2 linked regions of the Homo sapiens genome follow. The protein of the gene in region 1 interacts with the protein of each later gene in a pairwise test. Each region holds a gene or a part of one and is shown on either strand. Other genes may lie near its edges.

Region 1 (4,073 bases):
TTAAAGTGTCTGATGTCCACAGTCTATTGAGTTAAAAGACATGACGAGGGAATTGGGTCTTTTTCCTTACCTCATGAAGTTTCCGTTTGATGGTTTGATTGTTCCACAGTAGTTTCACAACCACAGAATAATAATGTTGACTTTTATGTGAATATATTTTGTAAAATACATGCTCATTAAAGAAAAAAATAAAGAATTGTTTTAAGAATAAGAGAAGTTCCTAATATTGATATTTGGTAAAATCTTAAAATGTGAATGCACTAGTATCTCAGAAAGATAAAAGACGGTAAAGCGTTTCTTCTCTACAGAAACCAGCGTGAGTCATAGGGTGACTGGGGTCAGTCTAGTCCTATCAGTGCCAAGTGGGAGGTCGTGTGAGCTGAGAATGAGAAGAGGCAGATGACTTGATGCTTCGTGGACAGGCAAAGTTCACATACGTGTTAGCTTCACTTTTAGGAATCAAATAAAGCAGAGGACCCTAGAAAATAATTCCTAGATTGGAGGTTCTGGGATCTTCTATTCCTGATAATAATATTTTCCCTACCAAGCAAATATATCTGGTTTTATCTGGATTGTGACAAGTGCTAAAGATAATAGTCTTTTTAAAAAATTACCTAAAATTATATTGAACCTACATTTTCTTAACTGAAGCAAATTCAAATACAGCAATTCTTTACCATTAATAATTCCCTTCAACTTGTAGTTTGCAAAGTTCCCTCAGGATGGAAATATGTTAAGTACCTAGTTATGTAGCACTTTTAATAAACTGGTAAAGGAAATAAGTTTAATCAGTATAAATGAAGTTCAAAAATAACCTGTATTCTTTGAGGTTCCTGGATAAAGAAAATGTGGCACATATATACCATGGAATACTCTGCAGCCATAAAAAAGGATGAGTTCATGTCCTTTGCAGGGACATGGATGAAGCTGGAACCACCATTCTCAGCAAACTAACACAAGAACAGAAAAGCAAACACCACATGTTCTCACTCATAAGTGGGAGTTAATCAATGAGAACACATGGACACAGGGAGGGGAACATCACACACCAGGGCCTGTCAGGGGGTGGGGGACTAGGGGAGGGACAGCATTAGGAGAAATACCTAACATAGACGATGGGTCGATGGGTGCAGCAAACCACCATGGCACATGTATACCTATGTAACAAACCTGCGCGTTTTGCACATTTACCTCAGTACTTAAAGTGTATATATACATACATACATGTATATATATATATATACATATATATATATATATAGCAGGAGTAGCTGAGCATATATGCTTACTGGTTTCATGTCATTTGCTTTTATTTATATTGATGATATGAAACAAAAATATAAGGCAGCTGGGCATTGTGGGAGAAGATATACCCTAACCTGCAATCTTTGATTTCAAATGCATCTGCTGAACTAAGGCCAATAATCAAAGTACTTAGGTTTTAGTCCTAATCTGCCACTAAGTTTCACTGTTGCGTAACTCTGCTTGTCTCTCTGAATCCATTTTTCTCATCAGTAACAAGAACACTGAAATAAATGATGACTCAAGTCTCTTTAATTCTATAATTATATGATCCTATGATAGTACGAAATTTAGAATCTAGACTAAGATTAAATTTGGGGAGAGGAAACTATTCATAAGGGATTGGCAGGGACTTTATGCACACTTTAATGGTATCTACTAAGCAGGCTGGCTCTACATGAAGCATAATATTTGAGAAATTCCTTTGACATTAATTTGTGACTCTTTTAAAAATTAAATATCATCATTCCACTATAAAATGTGGTTCCCAGCTGACTTTAAAAGCACATTGTATAAAGACATACATCATAGTTGATTGCCATTTCAGAGAACAATAATGTTTCAATTTTTGTGAATTCTTGGCAGAATAAAGATAACATCCTTGGCTTAGAAAAGGCTCAGCAGCCATGGACTGTCAAAGGAAAGAGTGCAATCAGAGGATAAATGTAATTGCATGAGATGCAATTTGAAGAATACTTGAAGCTATAGAGATTTGTTTATGGCATTTGAAACTCAGAAACTCATACATGTACAGTGAATATAAATGCAACTACATTTTATTAGAGGCAAAACACTTATCTAGAAATCCAAATAAAGCAGAAAATAAAACATGTTGTATAATTTCTAAATAACTAGCTTCATAAACAAGGAAGAGAGTGGGATGGGTGTTACAAAACAAGATAGTTGGCATAGTTTTCAGGTAACACGTTCTAAGGGATGACATTTAAAGGTGTGGCTTTCCACATGCATCAGAGTATATATAAATGTTCCTGTCCAGTCACAGTCACCAAACTGACCTACAACAGCTAACCACTTCTGACAACATGAGCTACTCCGGCAGCTACTATGGAGGCCTAGGCTACGGCTGTGGAGGATTCGGTGGCCTGGGCTATGGCTATAGCTGTGGATGTGGCAGCTTCCGCAGACTGGGCTATGGCTGTGGCTATGGAGGCTACAGATACAGCTGCTGCCACCCATCATGCTATGGGGGATACTGGTCTTCTGGATTCTATTGAATAAATACTTGAAATATAGTCTTCTGTGAGATTCCCAATTCTTCCAAGAAACTTTATTCCATAACCATATGGAATTCCATATTCCATAACAAAACAGCTGCTTGGATCACCTGCCTTTTGACAATAGTGTGAAGAAAACTTGATCAACTAGATATTGGCATTTGATTAGTGATGTTCTCCAGATATTCACTTTTTTATTGGCTGGAGAGCCATTATACTCTAAGAAAGATTGTCTTTCAATATCTGATATCTAACCATGAACTTTTTCTCATGTGGTAAATGTGTTTTGAGCCTCAAATTTTTATCACAATAAATGTGCTGTGATGCATTAATATAATCAACCATGGTGATATTTTCTTCTTATAGATAAAAAAATTACCAATACGTTATATGTCACGATTATTTCTTCACCCTCCTCCTCCTCGTCATTCTTCCTGTCCCTTAAACCTTCTTCCTCCCTTTCCATCCCTTTCCTCTCCTTTATCTTCTTTTCTTTATCCCCTTCTCCTTTGTCTTCTTCCTCCTCCTCATCTTTAACATTCTCAATATCTATATTTTCTTGTCCAGGCAAACAGGAATTCTACACCAAAAGGTTAAAGATGCTTCTGTGGTGATAAACTTCTGCTTAATCTTTTAATTCACTATTTCTTGGAGAATATCTTGATAATTTCAGAGCAATATAATAAGAAAAGGTTTTAGCTTGCACATAGATTATAACATTGGAGAACAACAGTGTGAAGGAATTATATCAAAGTATTAACAATAGCTTTATCTAGGAGATGGGAATATGGTGGCTGGTGTAATAGTTATTCTTTCTTCTTTTGTGTATGTTTAAAAAATTGCATAGAAAAAAAGCTATAAAACAAAGCTCGGGCCAATTTATTCCATCTTCAAATACATATTATCTGATTAAATTAAATGTATAAAAAGTGGACCCAAGAAGAAATACGAACCTGAATATTTCTATATGTCATAAAGAAGTGGAATTCATGAATCCATTTTGACAAATATGCAAATTTAAGACTAGATGATTTCACCAGTTAATTCTGAACAGTTTCTCTTTCAGAGAATAAGATAAGATAAAACACTAAGACTCTTCTGTACTTTTTTTTTAAGGTTAGCTGTATTAGTTCATTCTTCCATTTCTATAAAGAAATACCTGAGACTGGGTAATTTATAAAGAAAAGAAGTTTAATTGGCTCATGATTCCTCTGGCTGTACAGGAAGAATGATGCAGGCCATCTACTGGTCTCCAGGGAAGGCCTCAGGAAACTTACAATAATGGTGGAAGAGGAAGGGGAAGCAGGTGGAAGGTGAAGGGCAAACAAGAAATCATGGTGGAGCAGGAAGAAGAGAGAGAAAGTGGAGGTGCTATACACTTTTAAACAACCAGATCTCATGGGAACTCACTCACTGTCATGACAGCACCAAGGCGGACAGTGTTAAACCATAAGAAACTGCCCCCATGAGCTAATCATCTCCCACCAGGCCCCACCTCCAGCACTGGGGATTACAATTCGACATGAGATTTGGATG
Region 2 (3,889 bases), on another chromosome or scaffold:
GCTAATTTTTTTGTATGTTTAGTAGAGATAGGGTTTCACCATGTTAGACAGGCTGGTCTCAACCTACTGAGCTCAGGCAATCTGCCCGCCTCAGCCTCCCAAAGTGCTAGGATTACAGGCATGAGCCACCGCGCCTGGCCCTGATATTAATTTTCTAAGGCTTTCATAATGCTTGGGAATAGGGGTTCTAGAATCAGCCTGGGTTCTGCCACTTACTAGCCATGTGACTTCAGGCAAGTCACTCTGCCCCTCAGAGCAACTGGCTGGTTTTCTTACGAACACATTAACTCATTTCATCCTTACAAAAACCCTGTGAGATAGGTATCATTACACCCATTTTATAGTTAAGAAAACTGAGACACAGAGCAGTTACTGACTCGCCCATAGTCACATGGCTAGGAAAGTGGGGGAGAACATTTCACTCCAGGCAGTCTGGCTTCGGAGTCTGTGCTCAATTACATGCCAAGCAGCCTCCCATATGTAAAGCACTCAGAACAGTGCCTGGTACATGGTGTTTACTGGTGTCCTTATTATTAGGGAGAGGGGATAAGGGTCTAGACTTGGGGAATGGCACAAAAAAAGAAGGAAAACCCCAAGCAGCAGCCTGTTCTCATGTCATAAGAACTCTAACTCAAGCCACAACCTGAAACAACCAGTCTGGCCAGGGCCAACTGGTCTATAAAGTTGTTTTATAGACCCCTACAAGAAAGGATGTCAGGGGAAGGGAGATCTGGAAGGTCCAGCCCTCACCTCCCCAGCAGCAGGGCAGACCTGCTGGCCAGCATGTCTCATTTCCACCCAGGAGGCAGGCAGGGAGCCTGAAGAGGCAGGTGAGGATACCTCTGCCAGTTTAGGGAAGAGAAATGATTCTGGGAGTGTCTCAACAGCCGGAGCATGGGCCTCTCAGGTGTCTGGGTCTTGTCAGGCAGGCAGACACCAAAGCTGTGGGCCCTGATCGCATTCCATCCATGTCAGGGAACTCTGCTTGTCTGTTCTCATGGTGCACCCTCTCTATCCACACCCAGCAAAGTGATGCTCAGTCTGGGCACTTCTCTTTCAATGCCTCTATAGCCAGGGCAAAGCTGCCCTGTGCAGTAGGTACCACCTACTGAGCCTGGTACCTACCACCTTTCCCATGAATGCTGAACTTGGCCAGCATGCAGAGAGTACTGGTTTCTAGAAACTAGGGAATTCTAGCTTTCCTCAAGGAGGGTAGAAGGGCCGTGAGAACAATTTGGTAAAAGTCCTAATTCCAATATCTAACCTGCTCTTCAGAGTCTAAGAACGGGTATCCCAATGAGGAGAGAAGAGAGGCCTTCCTGTGGCCTGTACCACTGCAATGCTACCTAACTGCCAGGCCAAGAATCTCCAAAGGTAGCCTGGGCAGAGCAAGGCTGTCCAGAGCTATACGGGCCCTGTTCTTGGGAATGCTCCTCGGCTTGGGGCACAGACTACGGGAGTTCTCACTTCTGAAAGCCCCCTACCTTCCAGTTAGCAGCCAGACCCCAAGGGAGACCCCTGCTCAGATCAACAGCCCAACCTCCTGGGATGCCATGTCTCCGAGACTCCCCAGTACATCTTGGGCCCAGGAAGCCTCACCTGCTGCAAAAGGCATTTTGTATGGGCAGCCGCCACAGGTAGTGCCAGCGTGGGTAACAGACAGGGGCAACACTCCGCAGATGCTGTAGCCATTCACTCCAGTGTCCTCGCTAGAGCAGTAGCGAGAGGAGCCCCAGGGAGGGTGCTGGAAAGGGGTGCCTGAGGGCACTGAGCTCGGAGCTAAGAGGAGCCCCTCCTCGTGAGGTGCAGCCACTGGGGACAGCTTGCCCTCAGGAAGCATGGGGCAGGGCGAGTAGCCCCCACACTGCAGCCCCTCTTGGCCACAGTACAGGTAGAAGCTGCCTAGTGCAGTGAGCTCAGGCCCAACACACAGGCCATTGTAGTCGGCGGGGTTGCCAGGCATCGGCAGCGGCGACAGCTGAGGTGTGGGGAAAGAGGGCTGATGCAGTTCCTGCTTAGGGGCAGGTGACTCCTCGCCTGGGCGCCCAGGCTCCGGCTTCAGAGCCGCCTGTCCACCCATCAGCAGGGGCAGGTGAGGGCGCAGCCCCAAAGGGCTCTCCAGAGCCTTGCTCAGGGGCTGATGAGATGGCTGGACGGATGGCCCACAAGGAGTTGCAGATGGCCATGGTTCATCAGGGCAGCCTTGCCAGCCAGGTGGGCCTGCAGCCTCCCCAGAGCTGGCCCCCTGCCAAGCCTTGGGATAGTTCTTGCCATTGACCTTGGGCCACTTTGGCCTCGGGGCCTTGGGTGCTGGGGGCTCAGTGGAGCGCCCATCTACTTCTGCATGGGCACGAGGCAGCCGCAGGGGTAGCTCCCGCTCCTGGCTCAGTTTTAGGAAAGCAGCTGCGTTCAGGCTAGCCAGTCTCTTGGGAGCTGGGTCTCCATCTCGGCGGGGACCTTCATCGGGTGCTGGCTCTGGAGACAGGTCCCGACTTCCTCCTCCAAGGTCCCCCAGCCGGGGCCGCTTCTTGGAGGAGGACCAGCCCCCAGTAGCACGATCACGGTCACGGCTGCGGTGGGGATCCCCTGCTCGACTGCGGCGGGTGCCTGCCAGGCTGCTGGTGTCCTCTCGCTCCAGCAGCAGGTTATTGAGAGCTTCAGCATTGAGGGAGGCCAGGCGCCGCTTGCGGGGCTGGGCAAGGCCAGGGTCTTCACTGGATGGGGCCGGGCTGGGGGGCTTGGGCAGGTCAGGCGGTAGCTCATCAGCCTCATCTGCACTCCGGGGACCGGCCACATTCTCCAGGCGAGTCAGCAGCACTTTGCAGGCCTTGGGCTTCTCAGGAACCAATGGGCGCTTACGAAGTGGGTAATTCTTGCGGCGCCCTGTGAGGTGACCTGGGCTCTCGGGCATGCCTGGCTCCACACCCTCAACCCCCTGCTCCATGTTGCTGTCTTCCATCTGCAGGGGCTCTCGGCGGCCAGTGAGGCCCGAACTCAGCATGGGAAGGGACTTTCTCCGAGTGTGTGTCATGGAGTACTTCCAACCTGCAGGACAGAAGGTGGGCAATGAGAGAAGCCCTCTCTGGCCTGCTCCTGCCTGCTTTCTCTCCCACTGCAGCCTACCCAGCCCCAGGTGCAGTGATCCTGGCCTACAACTACCCTGTCTCCAGTATGGATTTTCCTGGGACTCCCTTTCCAGAGTGTGAAGGGGCAGTGGAATCAAGCTACCAGCAGCTGTGCAAGGACTGGTTCCTCCTCTTTCCTTTTAGCCTAGGGTATCTCTGAACTAAGCCCCTGAAGAGCCTAGGGAGCAAGGCAGACCCCAGGGACAGGGGATAGGAGGAGCTGGTGGCAAAGCTCTTTGTTCTCTCCCCCTGTCCTTCTCTCACTAGATATTCATCACAGGATAGGAAGAGGCTCTGAAGACAGAGCCTCCCAAGATGGGGGACTGGGTGGTAGAAGTCCATTTATTCTTTCTTCTTTTTTTCTTTTTTTGAGAGACGGAGTCTCGCTGGAGTGCATTGGTGAGATCTTGGCTCACTGCAAGCTCCGCCTCCCAGGTTCACGCCATTCTCCTGCCTCAGCCTCTCGGGTAGCTGGGACTACAGGTGCCCGCCACCACGCCCCGCTAAATTTTCTTTTGTATTTTTAGTAGAGAGGGGGTTTCACCGTGTTAGCCAGGGTGGTCTCGATCTCCTGACCTCGTGATCTGCCCGCCTCGGCCTCCCACAGTGCTGGGATTACAGGCGTGAGCCACTGCCCCCGGCCAGGAGTCCATCTATTCTTCCAAAAGTATAACCAAGGCATTAACAATCCCCTCCCCAAACGCAGGGCTTCTGAGGTTGGCCACAGGAGGACAAGAAGACAGACAGTGAAGAGCTGAGATGGG

The links. The genes of interacting proteins can lie anywhere in the genome.
Region 2: the proteins of KRTAP19-7 (region 1) and BAHD1 interact in binary tests that used the Homo sapiens proteins (3 or more experiments, as listed by UniProt).

What each region holds. Positions count from the first base shown.
Region 1 is NC_000021.9:30,559,562-30,563,634, reverse strand, and holds KRTAP19-7 (keratin-associated protein 19-7), read left to right. Parts: upstream 1-2,320; 5' UTR 2,321-2,345; coding exon 2,346-2,537; 3' UTR 2,538-2,760; downstream 2,761-4,073. UniProt on the Homo sapiens protein: In the hair cortex, hair keratin intermediate filaments are embedded in an interfilamentous matrix, consisting of hair keratin-associated proteins (KRTAP), which are essential for the formation of a rigid and resistant hair shaft through their extensive disulfide bond cross-linking with abundant cysteine residues of hair keratins.
Region 2 is NC_000015.10:40,457,607-40,461,495, reverse strand, and holds part of BAHD1 (bromo adjacent homology domain-containing 1 protein), read right to left. Parts: intron 3,046-3,889; coding exon of another isoform or gene 3,032-3,045; coding exon 1,600-3,031; intron 1-1,599.